Regions from separate parts of the Homo sapiens genome. Here regions 1 and 2 are each linked to region 3. Evidence: fine-mapped expression QTL. A gene starts in region 3. Each other region holds a variant in brackets. All regions are shown on one strand. Distances are from middle to middle.

Region 1 (8,181 bases), 83 kb after region 3:
GGGGCTCCCATTTCTCTGCTGAAAACAGGAGAACATCAAAGTCTTTTATACTGAGAGTAAATATTTGATTTTTGAATAGAATTCCGGCCTCCTCAGAAAGTGAGAGGGACTCAGGCTTGTGTCCATGGTTGCTAAACGTGCTCTATTCAGCCACTCTCCAGAGGAACAAAGAGGAGAAATTAATTGGTATTAAAGGGCTGGAAAGATCCAGCTTTTGCTGACCTATTTAAGATGCAGCAAGGACATTCTGGAGAATATCTCTGGAGTTCTGTTCTTGTAAAGCTTCAGTGCTTAAATACAAACAGGTTGAAAAATCATGGGGAAGCCACAAATTACACCCCAACTCATGAAAGCCTTCACTGTTTCCCTTCTCCTAGATCCTCAGATGGTGTCCACCCACCAACCGTGTCAGGGGAAGGATTCGCTGCCCTCTGCCGTCGTTCACCCTCCTACCAAAGAGGGAGGCTCAGAAATGGGAATCAGCTGGCCAGCATCTGATAATTGCCTACTGTGTGAAGAACACTCTATGTTCCAAACATTAATAAAAGTGGTGGGATGTGGAAGAGGAGGAAGGCGGCACATTCAAAAGTAATAGACGACACCATCCCTGGATCCCTGTCTAGGAGCTGAAATATATTATAGCTGGGAAGGCTGCACCTACATCTATAAGCAAGTATAATTGATAAAACATTTGCATTGCCCTTTACAAATTATCTTTTAGAATATTATTTTATTTAGCCTTCTAACAACGCTGTGCAGTGGGATTTTTTTTTCCATTTTTCAAGGAGGATCATGAAGCTTAGAGAGGTTAAATAACCTGCTCCAAGTCACACATTTTACAAGTTGGCACAGCCTAGACTCAACTGTGCTTCCTGTCTAATGTTCATAATGCTGTACCCCTGAAAGAGGTTTCCTTCACATTTGCAAGTTGGCACAGCTTAGACTCAGCTGTGCTTCCTGTCTAGTGTTCATAATGCTGTACCCCTGAAAGAGGTTGCCTTCAGCCAGGCCCAGAAGTAAAAACTAAGTAGGAAAAGGAGAGTTCTGAGACAAGATGTGAGAAAAGGGATCAGGCAGGTGACAGGACCATAAAAAAAAAAAAAAGCTTAGTAAGCAAGGGAAACTGGGCCCCCACAGGTTAGGCCAGGGACACTAAGAAGATAGATTTGTGATACACAGGATTCAATATGGGGAGGGACCACATTTCTTAAAAGGAGGCCCTAGCTAAGTTGTCAGCAGAGGTGTCTTGAAGACAGCCCCCAATTTTCCCCTTGTTGCAGTACTTACAGGATTTGGCTTTGTCTAGTTTAAAGATCCATGCCAAAGTCAGGCCTCCAAGATTCTGCATCTGGTTTGTGGCCCGACAAACTAAGGAATGTGATTTGTCAAGATCATTTGATTGTAAGTGACTGAAGTTCAACTGGAACTATCTGAAGCAAAAAGGGAAGAATTTCTTGCATTATGTAACAAAATTTTTCAGGGAGCAGGAATAATTGGAAATAAGACAGTATTTTATATCTGTGCTGTCAAATATAGTAGCCATTAATTAGCCCCGTGTGGCTAGTGGGACTGAGGAAATACATTATAAATTTCATTTAATTGTAATTAAACTTAACACATGTATCTAGTGGTTAACATATTGGACAGTGCAGCTTGTCATGCGGGCAGGAGAAGAAGACTCTTGATGGAACTAGTTAAAAAATAATCTTGGCAAAAGGCCATGGCTTAGGTCACATGCACAGCTCTGGATCAATCACTGTAGCAAGGAGACTAGAACACTATCCCAGGCTGGGCCATGTACTTAACCCCACAGTCACAGGTGGGGCCATTACTAGAAAAAGCGGGAGAAGGGATGCTGGGAAGACAAATCAAAATCTTCTAAGGTTTTATGACTCTATCTTGCTTCCTAAAAAAAAGTTAGCAAGCATTTACTGAAAGTCTATTATGCATGATATATTTTACATATGTAACATTACTTCTCACAAAACACAAACAAACCCTCAAGGGTCAATTGTTATTACATATGTTACATATCTAGAAATAAAGACTTGGATAATGTGACTTGACCACAGATAGTAAATTGCAGAACTGGAACATAAACCCAAGTTTAGCTCTAAAACCCCTTTCTCCACTGTAATATGCTATCCCCAAAGATTTGGGATATAGAGAATGTGACTATTAATAGTAGATAATTTAAATAATCATAGCTGAACACACACAAATGAATAACTTGGCTTTCTCCAAATAGTTATCTAGAAAGCCTTACTGCTTTTTTTAAAATAAAATCTATTTCCATTTATTTTTATTGTGGTAAAATATATAAAATATACAGTTTATCATTTTAACTTTTTAAGGTGTCCATTTCAGTGGGATTTACTACATTCACGTTGCTGTGCAGCCATGACACTCTCTTCTCCAGAACTTTTTCCTCTTATTTTCTTTTTTAAGGCCTCATGTCTTACACCTTTTAAGGGTTACATTTTTTAAATTCCTTTTTAAAAGTTGCTTTTAGAGCCTGCAACATATTTTTTAAGTATCTTTAATGATTACAATTTTTATACTTCAAGAGATTTTTTTTTAAAATCAAGCATAGAGTGAATAATATAAGTAACAAGGATAGATAAAATAATTTTGGCTAAAACTAGCTTTAAAGTAAAAGTCTCGCCTGACCAACATGGCGAAACCCTGACTCTACTAAATACAAAAAATTAGCTGGGTGTGGTGGTACATGCCTGTAATCCCAGCTACTCGGGAGGCTGAGGTGGAAGAATCTCTTGAACCTGGGAGGCAGAGGTTGCAGTGAGCCGAGATCGCATCACTGCACTCCAGCCTGTGCGACAGAGTGAGAATTTGTCTCAAAAAAAAAGGAAAAGTCTCCTACCTTAGTCAAGCTTCTTTGGCTTCAAAGAATAGATATCCCAGTGAAGTACCATCAACCATCAGAGGAGAGGCATATTGCAGGAATACATAAGACCTGGATCTGGAATTGAAGGGCTCAGTTTTGAGGCCGCTCCAGGAACCAATTTTTGTAGGTAGCTCTGACTCATTCTGCTCGTCTCTTTTAGTCTCTAATATTTACCAATGGACTTATCTCAGAGCTTGTCTATGGTCTACGTTACAAATAATATAAAACCTAATGTAAATTGGCATTAATAATAAAGAACTTTATTGGCTTATGTATTTGGAAAGACTAGAGATGGGGTAGCATTGAGATAATTCAGAGGCTCAACAGTGTCAACAGGGAACAGAAAGAAGGACTTATTTATTTATTTATTTATTTCTAAGATAGAGTCTCGCTCTGTCGTGGAGGGAGTAGACAGCCAAAAAGCCCTTCCTTGGAAGATCTGGATAGTGCATCTCTCAACTTCCTAGATGAATACTTGGTAATGTAGAGAGATGCTGAAATCCCTGTTAATTTTCTTTTAATCACACACCAAGAGTAAGGAGAAAAAGACTTCTGCATCCATGGTAAAACTAGAGAATCTTTTGCAATAAGTAGTACAGCAGATGCTATTGAGAAAACTGGGCTTAACTGCAGCAATCTGCTATTGGTGCCATTTACAGTGAAATGCTACTGCAGAAACCTGGTCTGCACAGGCAAGCAGAAGGACTCTCTAGTTATCCTAGTTAGAAAGGTTATTTTGAGAGGTGGATAAGGAGGAGGAAGAAAAAGGACAGTGCTATGGTCCATTTTCAGGAAATAGCCCAGAATATCAGTTAGCCTTGGAACACCCTGCTGAAACTTGGGAGACAGGCTGAAAGTGGCCATGACTCAGCTGCCTGAGGCTTCATTCCCCAAAATCCAGTTCCCCTGAGAGTAGAGATAGGCAGGTTTCTCACTTCTATAGATGTTCTCCTTAGGCTATGCCCTGAGAACTGACATGTGACCAAGTTTTCTAATTTGTTACAGGTGTGGGTCAGCCAGCAACAAATAGGAAAGTAGTGACCAAAAATGCAAATTGCTCCCTCATGCTCATGAAACAATCAGTTCTGTGTGGGGTGGACTGCTGCCAAGGACCCAGTGACTCGGGGCTTTGTGCAGACATGTCCAGGGATCCCCCAGACACAGAAAAGGGATTATATCCAACTCCGATGAGGAGTGCTCTGGAGCAGGGCCTCAACACTTTGGTGCCAGCAATATCCATTCTTTTAAGTTCCTGAAGAAGGTAGACATTTCTAAGCAAACAGTTTCCTTGCTGAGAAACCAACTCTGGTTATATAGAATATAAGCATTCCTGAAGAGGTCAGAAAATGGGAACAGGGCCTTAGATGTGAATTCTCTGGACATATCAAGAATGTAGATTATTGGCTGGGTGTGGTGGCTCACAGTTGTAATCCCAGCACTTTGGGAGGCTGAGGCAGGCAGATGACCTGAGGTCAGGAGTTCAAGACCAGCCTGGCCAACATGGTGAAACCCCATCTCTACTGAAAATACAAAAATTAGCTGGGCATGGTGGCAGATGCCTGTAATCCCAGCTACTGGAGAGGCTGAGGCAGGAGAATCGCTTGAACT[C/T]GGGAGGTGGAGGTTGCAGTGAGCCAAGATTGCACCACTGCACTCCAGCCTGGGTGACAGAGCAAGACTCTGTCTCAAAAAAAAAAAAAGAATGTAGATTATTATGAAACCACTGGCCCAGGTGCTAGTGGGAGGCACAGACCTTGAGGTGGTGGGTTGAAGAAAGCAAGGAGATACCTAACAACACTTCTTCCCAAGTGTTGGTGTGTGAGTATGTGTCTGTGTATGGAGGTGTGCAATTCAACCTCTCTGTTGCCTTCTCAAGTATTAGGTTGGTGCAAAAGTAATTGGGGTTTTGGTACCAGCCACTGCAAAAACATACCAAATTGTAAAGACCATGAACACTGTGAAGAAACTGCATCAACTAATGGGCAAAATAACCAGCTAGCGTCATAATTTGACAGGATCAAATTCACACATACAATACTAACCTTAAATATAAATGGGCTAAATGCCCCCACTGAAAGATACAGACTGGCAAATTGGATAAAGAGTCAAGACCCATCAGTGTGCTGTACTCAGGAGACCCATCTCATGTACAAAGACACACATAGGCTCAAAATAAAGGAATAGGGGAATATTTACCAAGCAAATGGAAAGCAAAAAAAAAGCAGGAGTTGCAATCCTAGTCTCTGATAAAACAGACTTTAAACCAACAAAGATCAAAAGAGACAAAGAAGAGTATTACATAATGGTAAAGGGATCAATACACCAAAAAGAGCTAAATATCCTAAATATATATGCACCCAATACAGGAGCACCCAGATTCATAAAGCAAGTTCTTAGAGACCTACAAAGAGACTTAGACTCCCACACAATAATAGTGGGAGACTGTAACACTCCATTGTCAATATCAGACAGATCAACGAGACAGAAAATTAACAAGGATATTCAGGACTTGAACTCAGCTCTGGATCAAGCACACCTAACAAACATCTACAGAACTCTCCACCCCAAATCAACAGAATATACATTCTTCTCAGCACCACATCGCACTTATTCTAAAATTGACCACATAATTGGAAGCAAAACACTCCTCAGCAAATGCAAAAGAACGGAAATCATAACAGTCTTTCAGACCATGGTACAATCAAATTAGAACTCAGGATTAAGAAATTCACTCAAAACCGCACTACATGGAAACTGAACAACCTGCTCCTGAATGACTACTGGGTAAATAATGAAATTAAGACATTAATAAATAAGTTATTTGAAACCAATGAGAACAAAGACACAATGTACCAGAATCTCTGGGACACAGCTAAAGCCGTGTTTAGAGGGAAATTTATAGCACTTAAATGCCCACAGGAGAAAGTGGGAAAGATGTAAAATTGACACCCTAACATCACAATGAAAAGAGCTACAGAAGCAAGAGCAAATAGCAGAAAACAAGAAATAACTAAGATAAGAGCAGAACTGAAGGAGATAGAGACAGGAAAAACTCTTCAAAAAATCAAGGAATCCAGGAGCTGGTTTTTTGCAAAGATTAACAAAAAAGATAGACTGATGACAGGTTGATGGGTGCAGCAAACCACTATGGCACATGTATACCTATGTAACAAACCTGCATGTTCTGCATGCGTATCCCAGAACTTAAAGTATAATAAAAAAAAAAGTAATTGTGGTTTTGGACCATGAATTTTAAGTGATTATAACTAGGCTCAGATATATTTTTATTAATCAAAATAGGAACCATTACAATCAACACCTTTTTGCCAATGAGAAATAAGTTCGTTTATTCCTGTAGTGTAAGAAGCTGTGCTTCCAGATTCGCCAAACTCTTAAAAAGTATTTTCTGCATCCTGCTGGTTGTAGAAGTGTTTTCTCTGCAAAAAGTTGTTGAGATGCTTGAAGAAGTGGTAGTTGGTTGGCCACAGGTCAGATGAATATGGTGGATGAGGCAAAACTTCATAGATCAATTTGTTCAACTTTTGAAGGGTTGGTTGTGCGACATGCAGTCGGGCATTGTAGTTGCTGTGGAGAAGAATTGGGTCCTTTCTGTTGACCACTGTCAGCTGCAGGTGTTGCACTTTTCAGTGCCTCATTGATTTGCTAAGCATACTTCTCAGATGTAATGGTTTCACTGGGATTCGGAAAGCCGTAGTGGATCAGACTGGCAGCAGACCACCAAACGGTGACCATGACCTGTTTTTGGTGCTTTGGGAAGTGCTGTGGAGCTTCTTCTGGGCCCAACCATTGAGCTGGTCATTGCCAGCTGTTGTATAAAATCTACTTTTCATAGCACATCTCAATCCAATCGAGAAATGGTTCATTGTTGTGTAGAACAAGAGAAGACAACACTTCAAAACGATATATTTTTTTTATTTTCAGTTGGCTCATGAGGCATCCACTTATCGAGCTTTTTTACCTTTCCAATTTGCTTCAAATGCTGAGTGACGATAGAATGGTCAACATTGAGTTCTTAGGCAACTTCTCATGTAGCTATAAGAGGATCAGCTTCAATGATTGCTCTCAATTGGTCATTGTCAACTTCCCATGGCCGGTCACTATGCTCATCATCTTCAAGGCTCTCAGCTCCTTTGCAAAACTTTCTTTCTTTCTTTCTTTCTTTTTAAATTGAGACGGAGTCTTGTTCTGTCACTGGAGTGCAGTGGCACAATCTCAGCTCACTGCAACCTCTGCCTCCTGGGTTCAAGCGCTTCTCCCACCTCAGCCTCCCGAGTAGCTGGGATTACAGGTGCATGCCACCATGCCCAGCTAATTTTTTTATTTTTAGTAGAGATGGGGTTTCACCATGTTGGCCTGGCTGGCCTCGAACTCCTGACTTCAAGTGATCCGGATGCCTTGGCCTCCCAAAGTGCTGGGATTATAGGTGTGAGCTGCTGCGCCTGGCCATCCTTTGCAAAACTTCTTGAACCACCACTGCACTGTACGTTCATTAGCAGTTCCTGGGCCAAATGCACTCTTGATGTTGCAAGTTGTCTCTGCTGCTTTGCAGCCCATTTTGAACTCGAATAAGAAAACTGCTTGCATTTGTTTTTTGTCTAACATAATTTCCATAGTCTAAAATAAACATAAACAGCAAGAAGTCATTAGCAAAAAAATAAAAGTGAGAAATGCCCATTAAACTGATGTATAACATAACCACATTTATTCAAGCATGTATTCCAACATCAAATGGCAAATTCCAACAATGAAAAACCACAATAACTTTTGCACTCACCTAATAGTAGCTGTTTTCTGTTCCTTGCCCCTCTGGGTGGAGGTGGGATGGGTTTCCTTCTTGCTATTCAGTTACTCAGTGCTTTTGCTAAACCACATCCTCCCTTTTTCTTAACCTCACCTCCAACTTTGAACCTCATGTCACCAGAATATACCATGCTTGGGTTTCCAAGCTATACTTACCCACCAACCTCCAAGCCTTTTCAAGATTGTTGCTTCTGGCTTTCTCCAACATCATTCTTGTTATATTTTTTGGTGATTTCAGTATCCTCATGGATCATCCAATCAATGCTCTGGTGTTTGGTTTCTATGACCTCTTCTCCAGTGATCTTGTTCTTTAACCCACCTTAGCTTTCCCTCCTTTGGTCATACCATAGACTTTGACAGCACCAATAACCACAACCTCTGCATACACTCAGCTCCAAGCAGCCTACTCTCAGACCACCTCTTATCTTAGCACATTCTTTTGAGTATCCTGTTCTAAC
Region 2 (8,181 bases), 80 kb before region 3:
TCTTATACCTTTAAAGTTACTATTGTAACTGTTAAAACTAGTTGCTCTTAGTTAATTGAGGCAACGAAACACCATTTAATATCTTTAAGAAAAACATTAATTTCTTGAGCTATATTTTGTTACTGTGAGCATAAAAGTAGGAAAGACAATATCTTATGTAGCATACATAAATAAAAAAACATTTCTGCACACAGTAAGAAAGATGTTAAGAATCTAGCATAAATTTCTATGTACATCTTTTGACACAGAGCTGTAACTAATGATTAGGAAATTACTTAAGGCAAAATCCATCTGGGGCCAGCAGAACTTTTGCTACCTTTTTTCTTAGGTTTTCTGTTCATTGACATCTGACAAACTGACTTGCCAATCCCCTAAATCCTTTAAAACCAACCAAACAAAAAAGCCCCAACCAAGTAAAACCAAAAAGAAAAATGTAGCAAACTTGTTTCACACTTACTGCTACAGAACAAGTTTTGGCAAATACAAAATGTTTTTATTCTTCAATCTTTTGCTTTTCCTTTCCAGGGCAGAAGTTCTTAACCTTTTTGAGTCATGGATCCACTCCTCAGAAAAATGCACACATACACAACCTGTCCCATACGATTTCAAGGGGGTACCTGGACTCACTAAAGAACCCATACAAGAACGTCGTTAAAAAATTCTGCTCTGCATTATGTAGTTCTTTCCTCCATAAAATATAACATACATTAGTTTGAAACCCTAAAATAAGGTAAACTTGTATCTTAGATTTTATAGGAGATTCTAAAGATTGGAACAATTACTTTAAGTACAATTATCAGTTCACTCACTATTCTGTTCATTTAGATAAAGCAGCATTAATTTCCTTTAAGAGGTAAATTAGCCAAATTCCCGTTTCTTGAAGGAAATAATTTCTATCAGTAAAAGCATACAAGGGCCGGGTGCGGTGGCTCATGCCTGTAATCCCAGCACTTTGGGAGGCCAAGGTGGGCGGATCACCTGAGGTCAGGAGTTTGAGACCAGCCTGGCCAATATGGCATAACCCCGTCTCTACTAAAAAGACAAAAATCAGCCAGGCGTGGTGGTGGGCACCTGTAGTCCCAGCTACTCGGGAAGCTGAGGCAGGAGAATCACTTGAACCTGAGAGGTGGAGGTTGCAGTGAGCCAAGATCGTGCCACTGCACTCCAGCCTGGGCGACATGAGGGAGTCTCTGTCTCAAAAAAAAAAAAAAAAAAAGTGAAAGCATACAACGATATTACTTTACTCTTCTAAAAAATATAGCACTTCTTTCTACCTGCTGGGCAAGAAATCTTTTTTCTGAAGTAATAATTAAGTGATATTAAATGATTCGTTATGCTGATTATCTGTTCCAACTGCATCACACAGTACTTGATCACTTATTGTCTGATTAACTTATCGATATAGATGCCAGATAAACTACCTCAAGTAACAACTTAAAACAGAAAAACACACATCCAGAAACAAGTATAGTAAAGTAAGTCTTGACTACGTTCCTTAGTAGTCTCTATGGCTAAGCTCTCACATCTTCCAGCTTTAACACTGCCTAATGTCTAAAGGGTCTCACAGGAATAGGCAATGTCTACAATAATTCAATCCTCAACCCAATGGGATCACAGTCTAATTTATGACTCTATTAAAACTGTTCCTATTGTGATCATCAATGTCTTTTTTTTTTTTTTTTTTGAGACAGATTCTCGCTCTGTCGCCTAGGCTGGAGTGCAGTGGCACAATCTGGGCTCACTGCAACCTCTGCCTCCTGGGTTCAAGTGATTCTCTTGCCTCAGCCTCCCGAGTAGCTGGGACTACAGGCACCCACCACCACGCTCGGCTAATTTTTATATTTTTAGTAGAGACGGGGTTTCACTATGTTGGCCAGGCTGGTCTCAAACTCCTGACCTCAGGTGATCTGCCTGCCTTGGCCTCCCAAAGTGCTGGGATTACAGGCGTGAGCCACCACGCCTGGCCAATGTCTTCTTAATAACTGAATGAAGCTCAAACTTTGTCCTTAACTCATTTAACTTCCCTGCAGCATTTGATACTCTTCATCACCTGCTGATATCACTGTCTTTGGCAAATGTCTCTTTATAACACTTTTTGTAATATACTGATCCACTAAAGGTGGGTGGAATTGCCTAAGGTTCTAATTACAAACTAGGCTCCATCTTCTAAACATTATGGAGCCAGAATCAGTGGCTCATGCCTATAATTCCAGTACTCTGGGAGGCCAAGGCTGGAGGACGCTTCAAGGCCAGGAGTCAAGACCAGCCTGGTCAATATAGCAAGACTTTGTCTCTACTTAAAAAAAAAAAAAAAATTAGTCTGGGTGTGGTGGTGTGCACCTGCAGTCTCAGCTACTGGGGAGGCTGAGGCAGGAAGATCCCTTGGGCTTAGCAGGTAGAGGCTGCATTGAGCCATGATCACGCCACTGCACTCCAGCTTGGGCAACAGAGTGAGACCCCTGTCTCTAAAAAAAATAAAAATAGAAAAACGTAATACAAGTTCTGAACATAAAAGAACCTCAGAGATCATCTAGTTCATCTTCCTCACTTAACAAATGAGGAAGCAAGGCCCAAAGATAAGTATTCCTTTAAGAGGAGTTTGGCATATGAAAATTATCAAATGCCACTTAAGAAACTTTAATGTTTCCTAAGAAGTTATTTCACTAGATTGTAAGCTCCATGAGGTAAGGATTTTATCTATCTTGGTTGTCTCTATTCCCCAAGCCTAGAACAGTGCTAATCACATGAGGCTTATTCAAAATATATATTTATTCAATACATAATTAAGCTAATTTTAAAGTAGTAAATCACTAGCAAGAGGATAAAATTTTTCTTAGCAAAGAACATCAGAAAATTCATTGCTTAACTAAAATAAATTATCAAATCAATGAATCTTGATGGGCGGGGCTCCTGAAACCTTTTGAAAATAGCTGGGCAAGGCTATTTTAAAAATATCTATCATTCTTGTTGTTATACCTTTCTTTGGGCGGGCAGGCCACGTGCCAAAGGGAGCTCTGCAGCCCTGTCCAAATTTTATTTCTTATGCCTTACAAAGTAAACAAGCAAATGAAATAGTCAAGAATGTAAGGTAGTTCTGTCAAAGACAGGAAGGGGGAAAGACTCGATTGCTTTCTGATTTTAATCGGGTCAAACAGAATGACCACCACAAACGAAGAGATCTTACCTCTCTGGAGCCTCAGTCTTTGTGGGGAACTGTCCAGGACTGAATCCTATCAGCTTGCACTTCATTCTGAATCTGGCTATCAATGACTCACTCACTTTGTGTTTATAACTGGTCAATACTGCCTCCATGAGAAGAGATTCTTGCCTAGAATATATATTAATAATTCAGGGCCAGGTCCAGTGGCTCAAGCCTATAATCCCAGCACTTTTGGAGGCCAAGGCAGGCAGATCGCTTGAGGCCAGGAGTTCTAGA[C/G]CAGCCTGGCCAACAGGAGATACCCTGTCTCTTCTAAAAATACAAAAATTAGCCGAGTGTGGTGATGCACACCTGTAGTCCCAGCTACTTGGGAGGCTGAGGCATGAGAATTGCTTGAACCCAGGAGGGAGAGGTTGCAGTGAGCTGAGACTGTGCCACTGCACTCCAGCCTGAGTGACAGAGTGAGACTCTGTCTCAAAAAATAAAAATAAAAAATAAAAGAAAGTAAAAACAAAACTTTAAAAAAATATAAAATTCAGGAAATTTTGATTGTCAATGAATATCAAGTTCTAAGTTTTCTAGGTTCCTTCATGCTAGCAGCTGAGGGTCGTGCCCATTCAGATTACTAAGAAAAAAACCCTAAAGAAGGACAATACTAATTGTTAAAAACAAACATCTTCCATGGCTCAAGGAACTCAATTCATGTAACCATAAAGCTTCTGACCCTATGCTATGTGTGCTTCTCATGGACACTCATACAATGATCTCAGATGAGCAGTAATACTTGTAAAGGTCACACCTAGCATGCATGTTCATGTATAAGAGCTTCTTTAGGGTACAAGAATCCTTCAAGACAAGGAATTCTCAAGTGCTTTTCTATTTACAAGAATACAGGTCAAAAAAGTAGGGTATACTGAACTATTTCAGTATATAAGCAGCAATAGGTAGTAGCTACAGTCACCAAAGATAGCAGATAACACTATTTGTCTAGAACTTCCTCCTCACCTGAAAGGGAAAAAAAAAAAATCAGTTGTTGGCAAAGAACTGACTGGGATTAGAGGCTATTTTCATTTGACCTCCTACATCACCTCTGAAGTTGCTAAGTCAGCACCTCTTTGAATCTTTTTCTCAGTTCACACCTTGGGGGACTACATCAAAGAGGTATTCAGATACACTAAAAATGATACTTTTATTAGTATGTGATATCTAAAACACATGCAAGAAAATTATCTAAAATATTTCTGGCATAGCAGGGGAGAACCAGTCTTCGTTAAAGTACTCCCAAACACCCTCCACTACGAACTAATTATTCCATGGACAACCATGTCTAAAAATTAAACCCCCCCCCCGCCACCTCAAAAATCCGCACACAGCTTTACCATTACAACATCGTATTGCTTCCCAAATACGAAGGTGTTTCCATTCATGAGACCAATGTTTAAAAGGGAGACTGTGCAGAGCAGGCTTCCCCTGAAGCAGTAGGCCACTTTATTCCTTTCGTCTGTTGACCATGTGATTCTCTCAGTTCTGTAGTTATTTTCTCACTAAAAACTACCATCTATAGTGCAAAGATAACCTATAATAGAGATGTTTCCATTAGTAGATTTTACACATTTGGTTATGAGAAAAAGAATCCTGATAGGCAGATAAAATCATACAAAAACTAAGGTTATCTGAAATCTTCCCTCAAGACCTCTGGGTACAAACATTAAATCCAGATTCATTAACTTGTGAAAATGTAAACATTCAAAAAATATATATTTTTTGCATTTACACAGTGTAAACTACAGGTCACCAATGCAAGAAAAGAATACATCTTCATATCCTGACACATATCCTTTCTAAGAAAAACCTGAAAATAAGCATGTTTTATTAAAAGCAACTATCCTGGGTGATCTGAACTTAGTTAGGAAGTTGTTAGAAATAAATTCAGGCAATCATAACTATTTTTATAGCTCATTTGGTAGAATTTTTATATTCTATTCTTAGCTTTATAAAGACTGCTAAGAGAAATGACCATATGAAAAAATATTTCTGTACCTTCTACAAAAACCAAACATTTTCCTTACATGGCTCAACGTGCCATGTAATGAAGGTAAATCATAGCTACCATTTCCTGAGTGCCAACTGAGTGCTGAGATTTGGGCTAAGCAATTTACATGATCATTCCTACTTAATAATAATGTTAAAAGAGAGTGTCCCTGGAAAGAGAGTCGGAGGAGACTGTGCAGGTATGCTGGGGAAGGCTCTTGGGAACCACACATGTGAGAGACTGAGAAGCAGGGCTGGGCACAGAAAGAAGTTAAAGTAGAGTTGCAACAGCAGCCTCTGCTAATCCTACAATGAGGTATGGAACTCAGGTTGTCCTTCAGAGTTATACCGAATTGAGGCAAGGTTGGACCTTGGTATTTCAGCACTGACCAGTCATTGGATTCAGGCTGCCACCAGAGAGTGGGGGGCCCTCACCTTGGGTGAGACAGTTGCCTTGGGCAGAGTGAAATTCTGAAGAAATCAACCAGAAGCCACCAGCAGTCAGCATTCCAGACAGCTGGGGGGGGACTAGCGTCTCATTCCTGGAAGAGGGATCTGGGTAGCATGTTATATATATATTAAGATATATGTATCTTATGTATATATTACATATATATTAAGATATATGTATCATATTTATATATGGTACACCCCTATTTTACAGACAAGAAAATTATTAACAAGGCAGAGAAACATTAAGAGCTTATCCAAAGTCACTTTCAGTGTCTTTAATGTAAGTTCATCTTTGGTTTCAAAACTAAGACCTGGTATACTTCTCTTCAGAAGACACTGAAAATTATGGCAAGTCACTGTATTTACTTTTTTGCTACCATTGCCAGGAAGCTCATAGCTCATTTTAATATTTAGTTTAAGTAAACATATTTACCTAGGTTACTGCTATTTGCCCTGCATCATTTCTTCTTTTTTTTTTTTTTTTTTTTTTAGTATGGGGTCTGTGTTGCCCAGGCTGGAGTGCAGTGACTATTCATAGGGGCAAGCATTATGCACAACAGCCTCAAACTCCTGGGCTCAAGTGATCCTCCTGCCTGAGCCTCCCGAGTAGCTGGGACTATAGGAGTGCACCACCACGCCAAGCTGGCATTCTCTGTTTTCTTATTTCCTGATTCTACTTTTAGCTTTCTCAATATGCTGATATGTTTTGTTTGGTATATCATATATTAAAAAACAGTTCATCTCATCCCCATCATCTATCTCTAAGAAGCACCCAAACCATTTACACATTAGGTAAACAATGGCAGGCATAAGGTAGTGAACATTCCATAGCCTCCTTTGATAAGCCACATCCTTACCTGCTTTTACTGTCAAAAAGTAATTCTACATTGTGTTTCTGCTCCTATAATTCAAACTTACTTCTTTTTGGAGGAGTTGGTGATCCAATAAATGCCATCATTTATCTGAGATCTTGAATGAATGACTGAATGAATACAATTAAGTCTTTACTTATTAGGTTTCAATACTTATCTTAAATTCTTCCTCAGGACTTCCAAATCTCCTTGTGTTTCTAATCTTAGGAAACGATAAATTATCTCCAAGAATTTAAAAAATTCTTTTCATTTCAATGACAAGAAATATCAGCATAATGCTGTCCATCTGGGTGTTACTATATGATTTTGGTATCGTATTTATGAATGTTGATAATCACGTCGTTGCCAAAAACATGACTTCAATTGTCAAAATTTAATAAAGATGGGCTGATTCAGAAAAAGGTGATATAAGCAAGTGGTTAAGAAGAGCATGGGTTCCAGAGAAACACTGCTTGGTGTCACCACCTGCAAGCTTTGTGACAAATTAATCTATCTGTGCCTTAATTTCTTCATCTATATGGTGGGGCTGGTAACAGTACCTCCATCATAGATTTGCTGTATTAAATGAGAAAACAGCATTTAAAAGTGTCTGCTCAATTGCCTGCACTCAGTAAATGTTTGCATTATTATTATAATTATTACAAAAATGATACAGTCACACCATATGGAGACCAAGGGGCCTTATGAATTAAGGTTAGTTCAAATAAAGTAGTGCAGCAAAGTGTGGTATCACGAGGCGCAACACGGGTAGGAATAACATGTAGGAGTAACATACTCAAAAGAACCCTTACCCTAGCAATCAGTGTCAGAGTCATGTTGAGAAAAGCAAGCTTCAGCTAAACCACATCATCTAAAGCATCATTAAACGAATGCCAACTTGACTTTTCTTTTTTTGGAGTTGGAGTCTTGCTGTGTTGCCCAGGCTGGATGGAGTGCAGTGGCACGATCTTGGCTCACTGCAACCTCCACCTCCTGGGTTCAAGTGATTGTTCTGCCTCAGCCTCCCGAGTAGCTGGGACTATAGGTGTGCACCACCAAACCCGGCTAATTTTTGTATTTTTAGTAGATACGGGGTTTCACCATACTGGCCAGGCTGGTCTCAATGATTTTTTTGATTTTTCATTTTATTCAAAGTATTTCACACAACTGTTTGTGTTAACATGTGAACTCTATAGGTAAAAGGAGTTTATACCTAGGAGTACCTATGAAAATAAACATCTTTTTGCTCATACATTATTCGAGTTTCACAAACATCTGGCTATACTGCCATAGCTTCTTTGACTTTTTTGCTCAGTTCTTCCTTTATAGATAAAAGCCAATTAGTGCTGGGGGTGGTGGCTCCCAGCACTTTCGGAGGCCAAAGTGGGCAGATTGCTTGAGCCCAGGAGTTAAGAGACCAGCCTGGGCAACATGGCAAAACCCCATCTCTACAAAAAAATACAACAATTAGCTGGGCTTAGTGCTGCATGCCTGTAGGCCCAGCTACCAGGAGGCTGAGGTGCAAGGATCACCTGAGCCTGGGGAGGTTGAGGTGATCGTGCCACCGCACTCTAGCTTGGGCAACAGAGCAAGACCCTGTCTCAAAAAAAAAAAAAAAAGCCAATTAATTAATCATTTTGAAAGATTTATAGCCTTGGCAAGAATATGGTGACTAACACACTGACATAT
Region 3 (8,181 bases):
GAACATGCATTATGATTATCATTACAAGAATATTTTAAAAACTCAAATAATAGGGCCCTGGGGGAGTATCAGGAATATGGAGAGAGCAGAAGAGGAAGGAAATACAGGAAAATAAGGTATACTAAGTTAAATGTGTTGTCCCCCCTAAAAAAGTCCTACTCACCCAAAACTTCAGAATGTGACTTCATTTGAAAATGAGGGTTTTTGCAGATGTAATTAGTTAGGGTGAAGTCATGCTGGATTAAATTGGACTCTAATCCAATGACTGGTGGCCTTATAAGAAGAGGTAAGAGACACCGAGACACACACCCAGGGAAGGCCATAAGAAGACAGAGGCAGAGATGGAGTGATGAATCCTCAAGACCAGGAAGGCCAAGCACTGCTGGTAATCAGCAGATGCTGGAGGAGGCAAGAACAGATCCCTCCCTGGAGCCTTCAGGGAGAGCATGGCCCAGCTGACACCTTGATTTCAGGCTTCTAACCTGTGAGAGGATACATTTCTGTTGTTTTAGGCCACCTAGTTTTTGGTACTTTCTTACAGCAGCTGTAATGCAAAAGGAGAGAGAGAGAAGGCTAGTGGGCTCTGCAGGGGTAGTTGTGAGGACTAACTATTTAATCAGGTATAGTCACCAAGTGTATATTTATGGAAGCTTGCTCTGTATCTAGTTTTATAAAAAGAACCAAGAAAGCTCTTTTTCTCCCTGGACTTTGTTTTATCTGTATTGGGATGTGAACATTTCTGCCCAGTTGTCTCCAGATTTCCAGTCTTGGTAGAGTGTGTTGCAAAGTGTCTCCCCACAGTCTCCTCCACTGGAACCCTGTGGGGAAAGGGGGACTTTCATGCAGGGGGCCTTGGCTTATTATCTCAGCAGCTATAGGGGTTGAGCCAACACACTCTGGCTCCTGCCGGGGGCAGGCTCCTGCTGTCTGCTTTCCAGCTGGGTGCCTGCTCTTTGCTCTCTGATTCCCCCTCCTGTTTGGTTCTCTGGCCCCTGCTGGCTGGGTCGCTGCCCCCTGGCATCATCACTCTGAAGCCAGCAGCCCTGCTGGGCCATTCACAGGCATACCCTAGTGGGGGTAAGGGGCAGATGTTATTTCTTTGTCCCCCTCCCAGCAAACACACACACACACACACACACACACACACACACACAATCTCACACTCAATATGTATTAATGTCCTGGGAAGGGGTCCAGGCAGAGAGTGATGGCAGGCTACAGGCTCTGGGGGGATGCAAATGGACCGGACAGTGTGTGTGTACATTGGGGGGAGGCAGTGGTAGTAATGGGGGGTTGTCTTCAGACTGCACTCCTGGGCAATTACATGCCAGCAGCTTCATCCACTACCAGCCGGCATGCAGGCTTTAGACCACCAAGAAGCCTCCCCATATGGCCCCAGCTTGGCCACTGAAAATTCCCAGCCACATTCTCTGGCCGATATGCTGGCACTAGGCCAAGAAAGTTAGCCTGGGGTAGCTGTTCTCTCCCCTAGCACGTGAACACACACACACACACTCACACACCAGTGGGGGGTGGGATGGAGAGTTCCTTTAGAGGCTCATGATTCCCAAAACACCACTCTTGTGTAGGGTTCCTGCCTTACTCATAATCACTTGCCCTTCCCATTTCCCATGTTCCTCTGCAAATCCACCCACCCAAAATACCACCATAGGAAAGAAATATTCCTCTTCTATATTACCTCATCAACTCCTGGCCCAGGGCTCTTTTCTAGGGCTCTACCTGTGAACCCACACATGCACACACACGCAAACACACACACACACACACACTTCTTCCCATCAGATGCTGTAACCTTATCAGAACAAACTTAGCTCCTAACTCTACAAATTCAACTCGCCCCAACCTCCCTGCTTCCTGCTACTCTCTCTTCTTTCTGCCAAATCTCCTTCAAAACCTCTGTTTCTTTTTCTTACCCTTTCTAAAGTCTGGACTGTACATATTGTTGGTAAAACTCTGGGAAAGAAGTAGTTTCCTGAGGTGGTAGAAGAGAGGGTCTCTAAACCCAACTCTGACTCTTTCTCCAGCCCAAGGTGGAAATTTATAAGTCAACAGAATGAATGCACCCCGGCTGAGGCTCCTCCAATTGCAGGGCATCTACTCAGTGTTTTAGGTGCTGTACAGGCACTTACAGTTGACAAATTAGGAAATGGACATAGTTGCAAAGAGTTGCATACCCACTCCAGAAAAAGGACAAAGAGTTGTCTTGGTAATTTTCAGAGAGCAGAGCAGGCAGTGAGGAGACTAGTAGGAGGCAAACCCCTTTCAGAACTGCCTATGGGGGTAGCCAGGAGAGAAGCTGGATGTGGACAGGGGCAGGGCCAGTTTCTAGGCTGCCTGTCTGACCCTCAGTAAAGAAGAGAAGGTGGGGAGAGGGCTGCAGAAGAGCTGGGAGGTGTGACTTCTGCTGGGCCTTCTCTGCCCACTCTCTGCTCCACTCTGCCTAGCCCAGGGCCGTAAGGACACTAGAGAATGGGAAGGAAAAGGGAGGGAACTTAGGTTATGGTTGGGAGGTATTTATTCTCTGATATCCCCAGTTGGGAGAACTCAGCCCTCTTGGCTTAGATCTGAGTTTGGTTTAAAAGGAGAGTATCATCAAGATAAAGAGAAGTACAAAGAAGGAAAGAGCAGAGAGAAACAAGAAAAAGTGGAGAGTGAAAATTAGAGAGAGCCCAGACGAGGTGAAGTGTAGGAGAGACAGCAGATTCCTGGAAAGTAGAGTGGCCCGGCTATTTGTCCAGCCTCCAAACCCACGTGACAGGGACTGTGAAGCAGCCTTGCTCACGGGTTGAGCCGCGCCTCCGCTCAGGGAACCCTGAGCAAATACGCCCTGATCCCCACATAAAGGGCCAATTAACTGCGCCGTCTCCGGGAACAAATCCGCTAACAGGGTGACAAGCCCCTAGACGCTGGCAGGCCCTGTGTTTGCGGAGAGGCCAGCCGGGAGCAAATCAGGGCATTAGGACCGGGCAGGAGCCGCATGGTGGGAGGGTTTCTGGCCCCCTCCGCCCCAGAGTAGGGCCTGGTACCAGGACGTGGGGTTTCTATCCCGATTCAGCCTCTGCTGTGATGGAACCCAGGTGACCGCGGTCAGCAGGGGGCGGAGCAAAGGGCCCCGGAGCCTCGAATCTCACAGGTCAGAGTAGATCAAGCACTCCAATTCCTCCTTAACAGATGGGAAAACTGAGATCCAAAGCGGTGACGTCTTGTACTTGGCAAACGTAGAATTAGAACCCACTTCTGTGTTGGTCATTCCTGAAGGATAGATTTCGGGTGGGAAATACATCCCTTACTTTCTCTCTTATCTGAATACCACCCTGGAGCGAGGAAGGGAGGGGCGTCAAATCTCTTATTATCTTCTTGCTTTTGAAAGGATGTGTCTCTAGCCCGTCTCCCACCTACCCCAGTCCTCAGCCTCAGGGTCTGCTCGGATTTATGTCTTCCCTGGGGGCTCCAGGGCCCTAGTCAGGCACCTGCAGATGAGGTGCTGAAAAGGACAGCTCCCAGGGCGCTGCGTGGCGGTGGGGTGGGGGGTCCATCCGGCCCCACCCCCACTCCCACCTACCCCCTCCCCCACACCTAGTGCTTCCAGCCTTTCTACGTCCCGCCCAGAACTGCTAGGGTTGGAAGGCACCTAAACACCCATAGTTGGAGGCTCACAGCCAGGCGCCTGGACTGAGGAAGGAGGCTTGGAACAAGCCCCCCACCCCTTGACAATGTCTCGGGTTCCCTTGAACAAGCTCTGCCTGAAATATTTCAATTCTTGATTCTGCTTACTCCAGAGTCTGCGACTGTATAGCACCCACCCCTCTGATCTCGACCCCTTTGGGGTCAGAAGCAGTCGCCCCATGAAAGTTGTCTCATCCCAGAACCTGACGGCTGAGCCAGAACTCTGGCACTGACTCTTCAATCAGCAGGGCCTTACCTCAGGTTAGGAATGCCCCGGCCTCTCTCTTTCCCTGATACCCCAAAGCCATCTCCTGTCTAGGAAAGTGAGTTTGTCGAGGTGGGTCTTCAGGTAGAAAGAACTCCAGAAAAGTCAGAAGCAGACCGCGACTGGAAGTGGGAGGTGGGAGTAGGGGCCCATGGTTTTCTTTTCGCCCCCCCCAGGAAGGACGACTGCTATCCGATTTGAACAGATTTGCACTAATTTTGCAGCAATCCCACATGCCTTTACAAAAATAATATTATCTTTGTTTTTGTCCTAGAATCCTTGGTTCCATTTCAGTCTCCTCAAAAACGTAAAACAATTTAATAAAAAATGTCAAAGCAGGGTAATGTAAAAGGATTCAAATAAATGACAGTTGCCTGGGTTTCCCTGGCTTTCAGTCTCCTACAGGAACTCCTAGATTAGGGCGTTTGGAGCAGGACTCCCGGGTCAGGGCGCGCCGCTCCATCCTCTGGCCTCCTGGCTGCAGACCAAAGGACCAGAGGGCAGAGAGGTGGACCTGTCTTGGAATTCTCTGCCTACTCCCAACTCTTGCTGCAAACCACCCCAGTCTCCTGCCCTTCCGTCGCCAAACCCCTAGACTTGGGAGGGAATGGAAACCAGAACTTTGGCAGCAAGGAGCATTGCTTGCGCTTTGCCTCAGTTTCCAAAAGGTTCGGGAAAAGAGAGGACAGATTCCTGTTCTAAAGTTGGGCAGAAGGGCAGAGTCCGACAGAGCCTCGTCCCTCATCTTGGGTGCTTTGAGACAGGGAAAATCTCTCGCCGCGTCCAGAACGGAACGCTGGGCTTGGGGTGCGGGGCGGGGACTCCAACTCGCGCGCTACGCTACTCGTGTCTCCTGCTCGGATAGTGACTGTAGAGGTAAGGGTGGGAGGGTGGAGGGAGGCGGATTAATCCCTTAATTACGCCGTGATCGGCGTGGCACCTGCTTTCCGCCTGCCCAGCTCCCAGGGGACTCCGGCACTAGGGGGTGGAGAGAAGGACGAGGGAAGGAGGAGGGCACGAAGAGGCACCGACCGTACCCAGGCGCACCGGCAGGAGAGCGGCACCGTGGCTGCCGCAGCGCGCAGAGGCTGTGGAGGGGCTTACGGCTCCCAGCCCACGGGTCTCAGACCCAGGGGCTGGGCCCCCAGCCCCCAGTCCCGATCCCAGCTGGGTCGAGCCATGCTGCGCTACCTGCTGAAAACGCTGCTGCAGATGAACTTGTTCGCGGACTCTCTGGCCGGGGACATCTCCAACTCCAGCGAGCTGCTCTTGGGCTTCAACTCCTCGCTGGCGGCGCTCAACCACACCCTGCTGCCTCCCGGCGATCCCTCTCTCAACGGTGAGACCCTGCCTCTTGGGGATATGGGATCCTGGGATGGGGATGAGGTGAGAGGGCGGCGTGGAAGGGAAGGAGAAGCGCTCCTGTCCCGAGGTCCGGGATTGAGTGGCGCCTCCCAGCGCCTCCCTGGGTCGTGGGGTCTAAGGGATAATTTGGAGCTTCGAGCACATGAGTGGGGGTACCCGCGGGAGGTCGAGGGCTTGGGAGAAGATGGCTACTGAGTCTTTTTACACCTCCTTCCCTTCCCCTACAACGCCCACCCCAGGTGAGAAGAACCGTTGCTGGTAACGGGCAGGGAAGTCCGAGCTAAGAAAGGCCCGGGCCCAGCGCAGGGAGGGCAGAGGAGGGGGCACAGTCTCCCGCCGGCCTCGGCCAAGCCAGGTCACTCGGTGACCCACCCAGGCAGCTGGTCTTCGGAACCCCGAAGTTTCCCAAGAACTCACTTAGGACCAGAGGAAGCCAAAATGCTGGATGTGTTTGCTACGGAGGGGATAGGGGCGGCGATCATTTTAAGGAAACTTAGAAGTTTGTCTTTCAGCGGCGGGACTCTCAGCCGGCCCACCCCGGCAGAGCTGTGGCGGGCGGGCGGAGCTGGCGGCGAGGTCGTTACCGCTAATTACGGTGATTAATAAATGACTGGGACAGCGCGCTCTCCCCTAGCGCCGCGGGGAAGCTGCGGGAGCCGGCCGCCGCCAGCCTGCGGAGAGGCCGGAGCGCGCCCCCTGCCTGCCGCATCGGGAACCCCCGCTTTACCGGGCGCTTTCGCGTGTGGTTCCCTCCAGGTGCACGCGGTCCCCATCCCTCTGCCTCGACCCACTCGAGTCTAGTGACGAGCACTGTGCTGGGGACTCGAAGGTGGAGAGAAAGGAGACCCTGGCAATATGTGTGTGTTCATGTGTGGGGCACATCAGGTGCTGAGGGAGGAGCCCCAGAGCCTCATTAGCATGGCCATTAGCTATTCATTAGGCTGCAGTCGAAGCATCTCCTGAGACCGGGAAGGGTAGAGGGGGAAATTCCAGGGAAAGGGCGCCTGCAGCTGTGTCTACAGGAATTAGGGGGAAAAGGCCGACCAGAAGGGTGTGGTCCGTATAGAAGGATTGGGGAGAAAGACGATGGGGGAGGAGCCCGATTCTCCAACCTCTTGACCCTCCTAGATTTCCAGGAGGTTAAGCACAGATCCCTTCTCGCTGGCACCCCGCAGAGTCCCGCTTCTGCTCACCTAGCGCGTTTACAGAGTGTTTTCACCATACTTTGTCTCATCTAAGCTCGAAACTTAGTGAGGTATGCAAGGAAGGTGTTGACAGACACATTTTGCCGCCGAGAAAACGCTTTATAGAGTGAATGGTGCCCTAATCGTCACAAAAGCAGCATGAAGCAAAACCTAGCGATAACAGATCAGTCCATTTCCATTACACCTGAGGGCTATACCAAGGGGAAAAAAGAATATTGGGGCCTGGTAGAATTTGATTCAGGTAGAGACTGTAGGAGCCAAGATAAGGTGCATATGCTGGGAACACAAGCCCTTAAATAATGGCAGAGTAGTGACGTTTATCCCCCAAGGGCTTTACATACATTATGGTCTTAGAGCAACCCTATCACTGCTCTCACATCACAAAGAAAGAAACTGAGACTGAGAGAAGTTAAATAATTTGCCCAAGTTCTTACAGCTAGGAAGCGTCAAAGTCTGAGATTCCAGCCCTGGTTGGTTCAACAGCAACACTTGCTCTCAATCACTCCAGTGTTGCTCACCACGGGGTGTTCCAAAATTGGGAATGGGAGGAGATGGAGGAGAAGAGAAGGGTGAAAAGCAGAGATTTCCATTTGGAAGGGAGGAGATGGAGAAAATTACTCTCCCAAGTGGGACAGAAATCGATCTTCTTGACTCCAGGCAATTAAAATAAACTCAGAACAGCGCCAGCACGGGTCAGCCTGTCCAGCTTTGTCTACAACAGAACTTCTAAGAGGGGGGGCAGGAAATGAAACCCAATCTCACAGGCGGGCTGGAAGCGGGAGGTTCCTGCAGATTTTGGAACAGGGTAGGAAGGGGGGAACAGGGGGAGGGGGCAGGGGGCAGAACAGATGCTTGAAGTGGTCCCTGGTTATTTTACAGCAGGTTATTAAAGGCTGCAGTGGCACCTACTGGCCGCCACGGGTTACAAATCCACTTTTGTTGGCTGGACTAGGGGCTGAGAGTGCCGGAGTATAACAGGCTCCGGGATCCTAACCGTGCTGCAGAAGGTGAAACAGGCCAAAGTCTGCAGGCCAAGTGACAGGTAGGACAGAATATGTGGATGAACTGATCGGAGTGAACAGGGGAAGTAGAGGAACATCAATCAGTAGAATAATCTATTGGAAACTATGCACCTGTCAGGAAAAGGAGCCTTACTAACATTTCTACTGCTATTTGCGTTCAATTCCTGTGACTTCACAGGACCCTTGAAATGAAGCGTGATTATCCGGGGTGTCAGTAAGAAGGGCCCTGTGCCGATTCATAGAATCCAGGTTGACAAGCCCTTCTAGGCCCGGCCCTGTCACTCCCGTCTTGCCTTTCATAAGGGATCCCAAGCCAGTCCACATTCCCAATTTCACTGAGCCAGGACCTTGCAGAAGTCAAGAACAAACTGTTGGCTCCAGTGCACGGTTTATGGTCTTTCACTGAGCAAGGACGATCCGTGAACCAGTGCAGGTGGAGATGGAAACCACTGGGCAGGAGGCGAGGGAGCGGTCTACTCGCCAAGCGTGGTTCAGCCACTCCCGCTTAAACTTGGCAGGAGAGGAGACGGAGGTCTCTAGGTGGTCCAGAAAGCCGGCCTAGAAGTTTGTGTCCCGATCCCTCTACTAACCGGCCTGTCTGTAGGCATCTTCCTTTGAGACGAGGAACGCGGAACGT

What was found. PIP is the estimated chance that this variant, and not a neighbour inherited with it, causes the effect.
Region 1: its variant is fine-mapped to the expression of ROBO3 in whole blood (INTERVAL, PIP above 0.99).
Region 2: its variant is fine-mapped to the expression of ROBO3 in whole blood (INTERVAL, PIP above 0.99).

Annotation. Positions count from the first base shown.
Region 1 is chr11:124,943,023-124,951,203 of GRCh38, forward strand. It overlaps CCDC15-DT (CCDC15 divergent transcript), which reads right to left. Exons shown (of 3, transcript XR_948134.3): 3 at 6,170-7,537. LOC107984406 (a long non-coding RNA gene) reads left to right here. Exons shown (of 2, transcript XR_001748429.3): 2 at 378-568. Among named protein-coding and RNA genes, the nearest start is that of CCDC15-DT, 6.9 kb to the right of the region's middle. The variant C/T (reference allele first, on the strand shown) is at 4,514.
Region 2 is chr11:124,779,987-124,788,167 of GRCh38, forward strand. The region is part of intron 1 of MSANTD2 (Myb/SANT DNA binding domain containing 2); the gene reads right to left. Among named protein-coding and RNA genes, the nearest start is that of MSANTD2, 16 kb to the right of the region's middle. The variant C/G (reference allele first, on the strand shown) is at 3,437.
Region 3 is chr11:124,860,447-124,868,627 of GRCh38, forward strand. ROBO3 (roundabout guidance receptor 3) reads left to right here and starts at 4,986. Exons shown (of 28, transcript NM_022370.4): 1 at 4,986-5,291. The coding sequence starts at 5,132. RefSeq lists enhancers at 2,461-2,962, 5,302-5,978, 8,028-8,181.